Linked DNA regions of Homo sapiens. The protein of the gene in region 3 purifies or fractionates together with the protein of the main gene of each other region. This does not show direct contact. Each region holds a gene or a part of one and is shown on either strand. Other genes may lie near its edges.

Region 1 (4,052 bases), on a different chromosome or scaffold from region 3:
CAGAGCCTAGAACAGAGCCAGGCACATAGCATGTGCTCAACACATCTCTGTTAAATTCATGAGTAATGTTGCCTGTTCGCAGATTAAATGCTGCTACCAAGTGTATTCATCAGAGTTTTTAACAATCTTGCCTGACCATGAAGTTTACTTCCAAGTTCTTCTAGGCTGGTGCTGAGCAGGACTTCAGGCAGCTGGGCCACGGCCCTCGAAATAAAGAAGTGAACCAACACTCAGCAAGAAGAACAGGGACTGTTTGCACTGTCCATTTGTGGCTCATTTATAATACTTTCTTTGCTTCCTCAAAGGTGAACAGACATGGGAACAGGTACATGTGGTTTGATAGGAAATGAAAGATTTCCAACAGTTTTAAATGGATGGACTTCAGGGCAAAGGCTGGCTTCTTTTCATAAAGGAGGTAGTTAATAGCTTACATTGTATGAGACTGCCCATATGCCCTTAAAAAAATCATTCTTCATTATAACTCTGAAAAAACAGCTTAACTAGTCTTTGAACAGGCCACCTTCATCAGTAAAACATGCTTCTATATCATTCTCTTCCTCGAACAAAACACTGTGAATAGCTATTGCTGAGCAGACGCCGCCCAGTATCTCTTATGTGACATTAAAAAAATCCACTCAAATACCAACAGATTCAACTTTATAGCACCATTCCAAAATACTAAACTTTCTTTGCACCTTTATTTTTTATCTTTTTTTTTTTTTTGGTACACATGTAAAGTCTGGGCATCCTGTAAATTTCTGAAAAGCCTCATAGAAAAAAAAAAACCGACTAATTTTTAGGACAAAGCAATAACTCAGTTTATAGGCAAGATGATCTCAAGCAGGCTGTAAATTCTTCGTGGGCTTCTGTAAATCTTGATTCGGGGGTGAGAATATGGAAAGGAGGCTAAAGTCTTCCTGGATTAGTCTCTAGAGACTGTGTTGCGCATCAGGATAGAAAAACTTGTTGCCCAACGGTCAGACTCTGCGTATCGGTTACAATGCAAACCATAACAACAGTCTTTTGTTAATTATTTTACTCTTCTGATTGACAAAGGAATTGGAATACTGGATATGTTCGGAGTTTGTATACACCTTTTATTTGTACTCTGTAAGAGAGAAATTAGAATAATATTGAATTCCCTCTTACAAATCTCCATATTTGAAGCTTGGAGCACTGAAATCTGTTCTTAGCAAGCAGATGTATTTAAAGCAGAATTATAAATGGGTCTTTAATTCAACATATATTTGGTTGCATTGTTATGTAAGAAGACTGTTTGACTCAGTAATGTGGGAGTTGACAGATGAGAGACTGTTTGCAGAAAAGATGATTTTTTTCCTCGTGACACTGGAGAGTCACGTCTCACAATGACTGTAACTGCATGTTCTTGTCTAACTCTTCCATATATTACTGTGAGTAATGTGAACCGACACAATGTATGCGAGGGGCTGGGGATTCTGAGTATACTGTGATTGGGAGAGGGAAGAGAAGAGGTAGAGGTCCACTAACAGCATAATTATGCAGCAGTTTCAAAGAAATCGATTATTACACAGTAACAGTCAATGACCCAGGAAGAGAAAGTTTAAATTAGAAGTGACTAGTATTAAAAAGCTACTGTGCACCAGGTAGGAAGGAATATGAGAACCATAATATGCCCTGAAATAGAAATCATCACTTTGCACTATGTACACCACATACAATATAACAGATTCTTTTTTAACATTGCACAGTATAAATATTATACACGGTGGAGTAAACTAAATGCAAAATAACTCTGAGGCACACAGAAGAAACAAGGAATAGATTGAACTTTGATTAAACTAAGATGGAGTTAGTAAAAGGCAGAATGTTACATTTTCAGGCCAGTTAAGCTTCTGAGATCTCACCTCAAGTGGGTCAGCAGCCACCTCCCATAAATACTGAAAATGATCATACCTCAATGTCGTTAGAGTTAATTGCTTCAAAGAAAGACTAATTAGCTAAGTAATTTGAGAAAATCAAACTGTTGCTCCCCACTCTAAAGTAGGTAACCCCTAAAGGTCTCTTCCAAATGTAGGGTTTTATAATGTGAATACACTGCTGCATTCCCCTATTTCTTGTAAATAACTTGATTACTAGGAAACCACTTTAAGGAAACTAGAACAGTATTCAAGAACACCCATCACAGTGCTTAACAAGATTTAATGTACATTTATTCTTAACATGTGGAACATATAAAGATTTTATACTGAATAAATGATATTCATTAAGCCAGAGGAAAAGGAGGAATTTACATCAAGTTTTTTTCTTTTTTTTTTTTTTAAACTACATTATCTTGAAATACAAATGTGGATTCTCATCACTGAAAAATCTTTGAAGTTGTGTTTCTTCCTTTTAGTTGTATTTTTTTCATTTTCTCTTTTTTGACTGTACTGGTAACCATTTTCTAAATCAATCCATATATAACCATTTCCACACCTTGATTCATGAAGCAAATTGTGATCAGCTGCTCTCCTGAAATCGAGCATGACTTTATACATACAGAAACTTGTACATTACCCTCTTTTTTTTTTGTTTTTGTTTTTTGTATTTTTTCTTTCTTTTTTTGGAGATATGGCCCTAATGAAAAAATATATAAAATAAAAATAAAAAATTATTTAAATCTACCATCACTTCGTAGTTACCACATCATGAAAAAGAAACTAAAACTTTGTACTAAAAAAAAAAAAAAAAAAGAAAAGAAAAAAATGAGGGTATGTTTAATGTACAACTTCTATATACATCACAGCCCATAGGCAGTAAAAAAAATATTTAAAAAATGATGAAAGGAATTGTGAAGAACTGTCACGTGGAAGGTCAAACGCCGACAGCAGGCATGACGGGAGTGGTGAGGAGCAGTTTCCGGATCGTTGTCAGGTATGTATTCTCAATCTTAAAAAACATTGTTTTTGCTCCCAGCCTAATGGAACCATATTCCTGTGGAGAAACCAGTATCATTTCATAGTTTTGACTACTGACCGACATACCTCCTTGAGCCCCTATACCTGTATCTGTAGAAATTTCTATTGCACAGAACTTTGGGTGATGGGATGCAGTTTTTTTCATTCTCTGAGGAGTAAAACGCATAGGAAATGGATAATTTTTCACCTTTTTGACTCAGTGTGGTGAAATTTTCGCATCTTAGCATCTTTTGCCACAACTTTTTTCTTTAAAGTCAATTTGCTTCCCCCAAAAATGCAATACAACATGGGAAAGAACATTAAAAAGATCTGTGAAGAACAAAAAGTGACCTTTGAATGCACTAGACAGCAACTTTGGTTAAAAAAAAGAGAAAAAAAAAACCCCAAAGGATGTACTTATACACACAGACAGCAAATATTAATTTCATAACTGTTCAAATTAATTATTTCTTTAATTCCCAATTGGTAAATAGTGAATGGGGCAGAGGAGCAAAGATTTTCTTTTCCTTCTTCCTACGCTGGATAAACAAGAACAGAAAACAGCCAGTTATATGTGACCCTCTAATCTTCACTCACACATGCTTGCCTTCTCACTTATGTCATAACTGCCCAATCTGAAACAGTACATCACAGATGACAGATGCAACCAGAGAGTTCAGGACAGCTGATATCGAGATATCCAGCAACCGGCCCTCGTGCAAAAGGAATTCCGAGCGGTTTTCGTCCACTCTGGCCATGGCTAGCAAAGCCTTGGCCGCCCTGCACATCATGTCTACGCTAGGTGGTTCCAGGGGCGGGGGCTGCATGTGCATGAGGTTGTGCTGGCTCTGCTGGTACTGGGCCATCGTGACCCCATCCTCTAGGAAGCTTATCAAGTTTCCAATGCTTCCTTTCTGCACAGCTATGGCCCTTGCTGCTAGTGCGTCCCCTTGGGCAAGGTTCGATAAAAGCGCCATGGACATTTCTCGACAGACTGGGTTTTTGCGATCCCCAACGTACCTAACTAATGTAGCATAGAATTTCTCCTGACGACTAAATGGAGGAGTGGCCAAGATCAGGTCCACATTATTGTCCTGGATACTGAGTTTACAGAGGGTCTCCAGCACAAGTCTC
Region 2 (3,650 bases), on a different chromosome or scaffold from region 3:
GCTATATTTAATAAAATGCGATACCAAAAGGGGCCCGCTATATTTAATAAAATGCGATACCAAAAGGGGCCCGCTATATTTAATAAAATGCGATACCAAAAGGGGCCCGCTATATTTAATAAAATGCGATACCAAAAGGGGCCCGCTATATTTAATAAAATGCGATACCAAAAGGGGCCCGCTATATTTAATAAAATGCGATACCAAAAGGGGCCCGCTATATTTAATAAAATGCGATACCAAAAGGGGCCCGCTATATTTAATAAAATGCGATACCAAAAGGGGCCCGCTATATTTAATAAAATGCGATACCAAAAGGGGCCCGCTATATTTAATAAAATGCGATACCAAAAGGGGCCCGCTATATTTAATAAAATGCGATACCAAAAGGGGCCCGCTATATTTAATAAAATGCGATACCAAAAGGGGCCCGCTATATTTAATAAAATGCGATACCAAAAGGGGCCCGCTATATTTAATAAAATGCGATACCAAAAGGGGTCCGCTATATTTAATAAAATGCCACAAGAGTCAGCGAAGCCGATCAATCACTTGCAGCAAAGTCTAGCACAGCAGAATTATGTCACTGGTGTCAAGGAAAACGGTTAACACTCACTTCCATATGGGCTTTTTAGATACCAAGCTAGGTGAGACAATATCAACCTACAGGAGACAAAAGCAACCTCCCGTATAGTCAATCAGTGATAAATCAATGTACCCAACAGTGTTTCAGATGATTCTCCCCAGCACTCATTCTCAGGTGGCATGGAAGACTTGTGTGACAAAGCAGAGAACTGGAGAATGATTCCAGTTATGGCAGATGGTATTTATTACTGTTAATAGTAACAGGAATAATAACACACTGCATTAATCTCATGCCTTTTAGATATATTCTGAGGTAGACAAGTCGGTATTATTATTTTAGAGATAAGAAAATCAAGTGACAGAGAGCCCTGACTTGCTCAACGACACTAGTTAGTGACATCACAAGGAATCTCTAAATCCCAGGTCCTGTATTTTTCTACAAGATCATTTCAACTACAATGAATTTTTAATAAAAAGACAGAAAAAAATCAATCTAATAAAGCTTTCTGTATGTTCTGCATTTATATTCCACACAATAAATTCAACCTCATTTTAGAAGAGTCTATATATTTTAAAGAAGCAATTGGATGTTTTTCCTATTAATTCATGATTTGATTACTTAATTGGCTAAATCTAAAGGTAGATTTTTATAATATTCTGTTAACACAATCACACAAGATGACATCAAGTTGCTTTTACCATATATACACACACAGAGTTTTAAAAGTACAGAATAGCTGCCACCACTTATCTTTACATAGTGATGTTAAGTATCTCTTCTCTGGAAAATAATTCTATATTTTGAGAACCAGAACTAAATACATTGTTTAAAATTGGTTTCTACCTGATTGAATGTGAATGTATTCACTAAGCTACAGGATCCTTTTAGATTTCTCTAACTATTAAAAACGTATTCTAGATGGAATCACCAGTTTGTATCTGTTGTAAATACTTTAAAAGATATTTTAATATATGAAAGGGTTGTTTTAAATCTTAAATGTTTTGCTCAAATGCAATTCATAAATGGTCTTCACGATCATTATTTTAGTAATTGGATAACTAGTATGAAAAAACTAGTTTCTAAAATATATAAAATAACTAATAGCTTAATCTGAATACAACGGTGCCTAATTTGTCTATGTGAAAATTATAGTGAGCCTAGACTTTTAACTATGTAATTGAATTAAATTATAGACCATAGCTACTCTATATAAATTAAGTCCTCATGAAAATAATATTAACATCCCAAACTAATATTCTGGGTAAACATCCAAGCAATGAACAAACTACTCCAAACAACAAAATTCATGTTTAATACTTACACTGTGAAAATACTTATACCTTCAGATAAAATTACAAAATTGTTGAATGATTCTGCTTTTTTCAATAAGCTACATATGCCCCATGTACATCCAAAAAGGTAGTGAAGTGGGGCTGGGCGTGGTGGCTCATGCCTTTAATCTCCCAGCACTTTGGGAGGCCAAGGTCAGAGGATGGCCTGATGCCAAGAGTTCCAGACCAGCCTGCCAACAAAATAGCAAGACCTTGTCTTTATCAGTCAAACAAACAGACAAACCAAAAAGGTAGTTAAGAGTTGCTCAAAAACATCTTAGTAGTAAACTCAATTGGGTAATGAAATCCTCCTGCTAAGAACAGTTACTCTGGGACACACAGACCACAAGGAGGTAGGACCATTTTAAAAAGTAAGCATTTAAAAAAACCCAACAACAACAACTCACAAAGAAAAGCCCAGGCCCAGATGGCTTCACTGGTGAATTCAACCAAATTCTTAAAGAGGAATTAATACAAATTCTTGACAAACTCTTCCAAAAACAGAAGAGGAGAGAACACTTCCTAACTCATTCGATGAGGCCAGTATTACCAATATCAAAACCAGACAAACATTGTAAGAAAACTACAGACCAATATCAATTAGACATAAAAATCCTCAAGAAAATGCTAGCAAACCAAATCCAGAAACATATAAAAAAAGAGTATACACACCAAAGAAGTGGGATTTATTTCATGAACACAAGGTTGGTTTAACATACAAAAATCAATTTGTGTGATACAGCATACCAACAGAACAAAAGACAAAAACCAAATCATCATCAAAATGGAAAAGCATCTGACAATATCCAATACCATTTCGTGACAAAAACACTAACCACAACAACAAAAAAGTTCAACAAACTAGGTATGGAAAAAAACTTACTGAATCTGATAGAGCACCCATGAAAAACGCACAGCTAACATCATATTTAATGGTGAATGACTGAATGCTTTCCCCCAAGATCAGGAACAAAATTGGGACATCCACTCTTGCCATTTCTACTCAACATTGTTAGACATTCTAGCCAAGGCAATTAGGTAAGAAAAAGAAATAGAGGTATCCAAATAGGAAAAATGAAGTAAAACTATTTCCATTTTCAGGTGAAATATCCTACTAATTCTTGTAGTTTTTAGTGGATTCTTTGGGATTCGTAAATATATGGGATATCCTGCTATACCCTTCTATATATGGGCTATCTTGCTATATCCTGTATTTAGAAAATCCCAAGGAATCCACTAAGAACTATGAGAATTAGTAAGTTCAGCAAGGATGTAGATTCAAAATCAAAAATATACAAAAATCAACTGTATTCACTTGCAATAAGAAACCCAAAAATATTATAAAATAAAACAATTCTATTTACAATAGAAGTTAAGACATTAATACTTAGAAATAAATTTAACAAAAAAGTGCCAAATTTAGACTCTGAAAACTACAAAACATCACTGAGAGAAATTAAAAAGGATCTGTATCTATAGAGGGACACCCCATGTTCAGAGATCAGAAGACTTAACTAACATTAAGATGGGAATACTCTCAAAATCTATCTAGAGATTCAGCACAATCCCTATCAAAATCTTAGGTGGCTCCTTGCAGGAACTGACAAGCTGATCCTAAAATTTCATATGAAAATTCGAGGAGCAAAGAACAACCAAAATAGTCTTTAAAAGCAAGAAGGAAAGAAGACTACTTACACTTCCCAATTTCAAAACTTACTATAAAGCTACAGTAA
Region 3 (4,229 bases):
TGGGATGTTCCCCACCCACTCACCTGCATGTGTGCCTGATGGAGCCTCTCGCACCTCAGTCCAGGGCTCTGCCCCTTGCTCCAACTGAGTAATTAGTTTTGGTTTGGAAGAGAGAAGCCCTGTTCATAAAGAAAAAGGATCTTAGAGGAAGAAAAAAAAAATGAATGAAAAGGAATGTGATGGCGGTTACAAGCACAAGCAGTCACTCCAGACCTCAGTGTCAACTTGAGCATCTGCAATGAGCATGGACAGGTCAGAGAGGCCTAGAGGGTGGCACCCAGGATGTCCAACTCATGAAGTAAAGCAAAGGGAGGGGGCAAAGTCAACTAGAAAACCAGGTCCTCCTGGAGGACGAGAAACTCCTATTTTGGGAGGCAGATGAATCATGACACAGAAACATTCCAGAACTGGGCTAGTTGGCACCACAAAGCTACCCATCTTAACTCTGTATGGCTCTGACCTTTCTTGAGGGGTGTAAGGGGCATAAACTCCAGCCTCTAAGCCCATACTTAAGAAAAACAAAACAAAAAGCACATCATTTAAGATTTTTTCAATACCCCAAACCATTCACCCTGTGAAAACACAAAGTTGCCCAGCAGACCAATCCTGAGTCAAGGAGAAAGCCATCCTCACCCACAGACACCAGATTCCCATAGTTCTCCAGCATCACATCCCTGTACAGGGCCCGCTGAGCAGCATCCAGGTGTCTCCACTCAATCCGGGTAAAGGCCACAGCCACATCCCCAAATGTCAGCGGTCCCTGCAAAACCAAACCCAATTCTGCTCATCCGGGAACCCCTGAGGGAGGCATCCCAAGAGAAGGAAGCAAGGTGGTCAAAGCCAGCTTCTGACAGTTCCAACAGTGCTCATGGAAACCAACAAGTAAAAGCTGAGGGCTCAGGGGATGTGCGACTCCTCCCTTGAGCAGGTTCTTCCTGCATGCCTGTCCTGCTCCCTCCTCCAGGCCTAGCCTCTGCTCACTCCACCCTTCATGTCACCTCATCAAAAAGGTCTTCTATTTCTCCACCCCATCCTCTGCCACTCAGTCTCGAAACCCATTTCACTTTTCTTCACAGGATTTCTCACCACCTGGCAGGAGAGGTTTGCACTGACTGTCAGCATCCTCTCTAATGTGAGCTCCAGGGGGACAGTGTGGGTCACTGCTGCCTCCCAGTCAAAAACACTGCCTGACACAGAAGTGTTCAAGCTTTATTCAATCAACAAATGAATAGAAACTTTGAAAAGACATGGAAAGTGATTAGCTTTATCCGAGAATTTACAGGGAGTATGATCTGACTCTGGGGCAGAATATTTTTAAAAAAGAAAAAAAAATTGCTTTTCATAAGAGTAACAACTTACTATGTACCAGCCACGGTGCTAAACCCTGAGATACATATCATCTCTCTAAATTTCTGCCGTAACTATATAAAGTAAAATCTATTTCGTAGCTAAAGACACAAAGGTTCAGAGAGTTGGAAGAACTTGCTCAAGGTCCCAGGGCTGGTTGAAGGCACAGTATAAAAGGAAGCCACAAAAAGTGGTAATGAAACTAGAACAAATTGGAATGGCTATGAAATACTAAAAGAAAAAATGAGTAAGCCTTAAAAAAATGAAAAGTGTGTTTCAAATGAAATTACTTGACTTAGAGCAGTAGAAATGTAGGTGATCTTTAATTTTTTTAATTTTATTTGTATAATAGACACTCAAATGTTTATCACTTCCTTTCAAAATACCAATTATTTAATCAGCTTCTCAAAATCCTTCAAAACCTAGTTTTCTCCAGGATAAAAGCAAACTCCAGTCTGGGATTCTAGACCATGAATGTTTCCAACTTTCTCAGACCAGTTTGTTCATGGTCCCGCCATAATGACTTCATTCAGGCAGCGCTTTCCCCTAGTATCCTCTGCAATTATGCAAATCTCATTTATTCTTCAGGAAGAACTAAGGCGCCCACTACTCCACCCCTCCCACCCTACCACACACTAAAGGTCAAGAGAGCACTGCTATCACCCTATGTCTTTATGGCCTACGTCTTTACATGCTAACGTGTATTTTTTTCATCGTCTGCCAGTTTGCAAAGCACTTTTCTGTTTCTAGCACTCTAGAAAACATGGGTAGCAATAATCTACTTGGTGAATGACTACGTAATGGGTAGACAGGACGGAAATCGCGGGACCCATCCAGGATTGGTTCGGGTAGCTTTGTCCACACACAGGGCAGGGCATTGTCCGGGCAAGAGGCATAAACCCCACCTCGCTGAAACACGTGGTTTCTCAAGAAATGGAAAAATCAAACTTGCCTGGATCTGGGCTCTTGGGGCCATCTGTCTCCTGAACTGTTCTCCCAGGCAAGGGCTGAGAATCCTGCGTAAGTCAATCTGGGAAAGAAGAGAGGAAATTGAGGAAGTCCCTCCGTGCCCTAGCCTAGCTAGAATCTGCCCTCTAGACCAGGTCCCCGCCCGCCCGTTCCCTCCACAGGTGGGCAGACAGGTCCAGGTGGGTACGCTCGGGAAGAAAGGAAAGGGAACGGCTGCTGGGATCCGGCCTGGACTGCAGCCAGCTCCACGCCAAACACTTTTGGCAGCACCGGGGGACGGCCTTGTCAGTGGCCCAATCTGTCGGCCGGGGCGCAAGGCTGGAGCGCTCTGTGATGCACCAGCCTCGAGCGGTCGCTCCACACGGCGCAGCCACTGCGGGTGGGCACTGCCCACCGCCGCCTTCCCCTCCCACCCCGGCTCGCCCCTCGACCCGCCCCTGGGAAAGGCGGGGAGCACCCGCCAGGGGCTCGAGGCTTCAGGGACCCAGCCTGACCCCGGCCGCTCACGAACCGAACCGAGCCGGCAGGGCTGCGGAGCTGCACGCCCAGAGAGTCAGCGACCACACCACGCCGTTCGGACAGTAACCACCAGCCAGGGGCTGGTGCAGCGCTCGCACCACGCGGAGACAGGCTGGACCGGAAGCGGAAGTGGCTGAGGCCGCGGAGGCCTCTGGGAAACGTAGTCTGGGCCGCTTGGGGTCTTAGGGGCTCCATCCGCAGAGCAGGTTGGCATCACCTGGGAATCTTTGAAAAGTGAAGGTGCGGGAAGTGGAGAGCGGCTGATCGCAGTCGGGAGGTGATACATTATGACTGACATGCAAAATCTGGTAAAAAATTGGACAGGGCAGTGGGCCGCCTGGAGGCAGTATCCCATACCTCTGACATGCACCGTGGATATGGAGATAGTCCTTCAAAAGCAGGAGCAGCTCCATATGCGCAGGCATTTGACTCGCTGCTTGCCTGCCCTGTGGCAGAGTACTTGAAGATCAGTAAAGAGATTGGGGAAGACGTGCAGAAAGATGTGGAGATGGTACACACAGTTTTGAAGTTGGAGTGAGCTCTCTTGGTTACAGCTTCTCAGTGTCAATAGCCGGCAGGTAATAAGCTTTCCGATCTGTTGGCACCTATCTCAGAGCAGATCAAAGAAGTGATAACCTTTTGGGAGAAGAACCGAGGCAGCAAGTTGTTTAATCAGCTGTCAGCTGTCAGTGAAAGTATCCAGGCCCTAGGCTGGGTGGCTATGGCTCCCAATCCTGGCCCTTATGTGAAAGAAATGAATCATGCTGCTGTGTTTTATACAAACTGAGTCCTTAAAGAGTACAAAGATGTGGATAAGAAGCATGTAGACTGAGTCAAAGCTTATTTAAGTATATGCACAGAGCTGCAGGCTTACATTAAGGAGTTCCATACCACCGGACTGCCTGGAGCAAAACGGGGCCTGTGACAAAAGAACTGAGTGGACTGCCATCTGGACCCTCTGCTGGATCAGCTACTCCTCCCCCACCACCAGGCCCCCCTCCTCCACTAGTCTCTGTCAGTTCAGGCTCAGATGAGTCCGCTTCCCTCTCAGCACTGTTTGCGCAGATTAATCAGGGGGAGAGCATCACACATGCCCTGAAACGTGTATCTGATGACATGAAGACTCACAAGAACCCTACCCTGAAGGCTCAGAGTGGTCCAGTACGCAGTGGCCCCAAGCCATTCTCTGCACCTAAACCCCAAACCAGCCACAAAGAAGGAGCCAGCTGTACTTGAACTGGAGGGCAAGAAGTGGAGAGTGGAAAATCAGGAAAATGTTTCCAATCTGGTGATTGATGACACAGAGCTGAAACAGGCGGCTTACATATACAAGTGTGTCAACACGATGTTGCAAATCAAGGGCAAAATTAACTCCATTACAGTAGATAATTGTA

What was found.
Region 1: the proteins of ZNF485 (region 3) and ARID1B purify together in Homo sapiens (affinity purification with mass spectrometry; one large-scale study listed by BioGRID and IntAct). This does not show direct contact.
Region 2: the proteins of ZNF485 (region 3) and MRPS9 purify together in Homo sapiens (affinity purification with mass spectrometry; one large-scale study listed by BioGRID and IntAct). This does not show direct contact.

What each region holds. Positions count from the first base shown.
Region 1 is NC_000006.12:157,207,378-157,211,429, reverse strand, and holds the end of ARID1B (AT-rich interactive domain-containing protein 1B), read right to left. Parts: coding exon 3,539-4,052; 3' UTR 651-3,538; downstream 1-650. UniProt on the Homo sapiens protein: Involved in transcriptional activation and repression of select genes by chromatin remodeling (alteration of DNA-nucleosome topology).
Region 2 is NC_000002.12:105,051,431-105,055,080, reverse strand, and holds part of MRPS9 (small ribosomal subunit protein uS9m), read right to left. Parts: intron 1-3,650.
Region 3 is NC_000010.11:43,605,145-43,609,373, reverse strand, and holds the start of ZNF485 (zinc finger protein 485), read right to left. Parts: upstream 2,937-4,229; 5' UTR 2,828-2,936; exon of another isoform or gene 2,811-2,827; intron 2,378-2,810; 5' UTR 2,324-2,377; coding exon 2,300-2,323; intron 761-2,299; coding exon 634-760; intron 141-633; exon of another isoform or gene 120-140; coding exon 24-119; intron 1-23. UniProt on the Homo sapiens protein: May be involved in transcriptional regulation.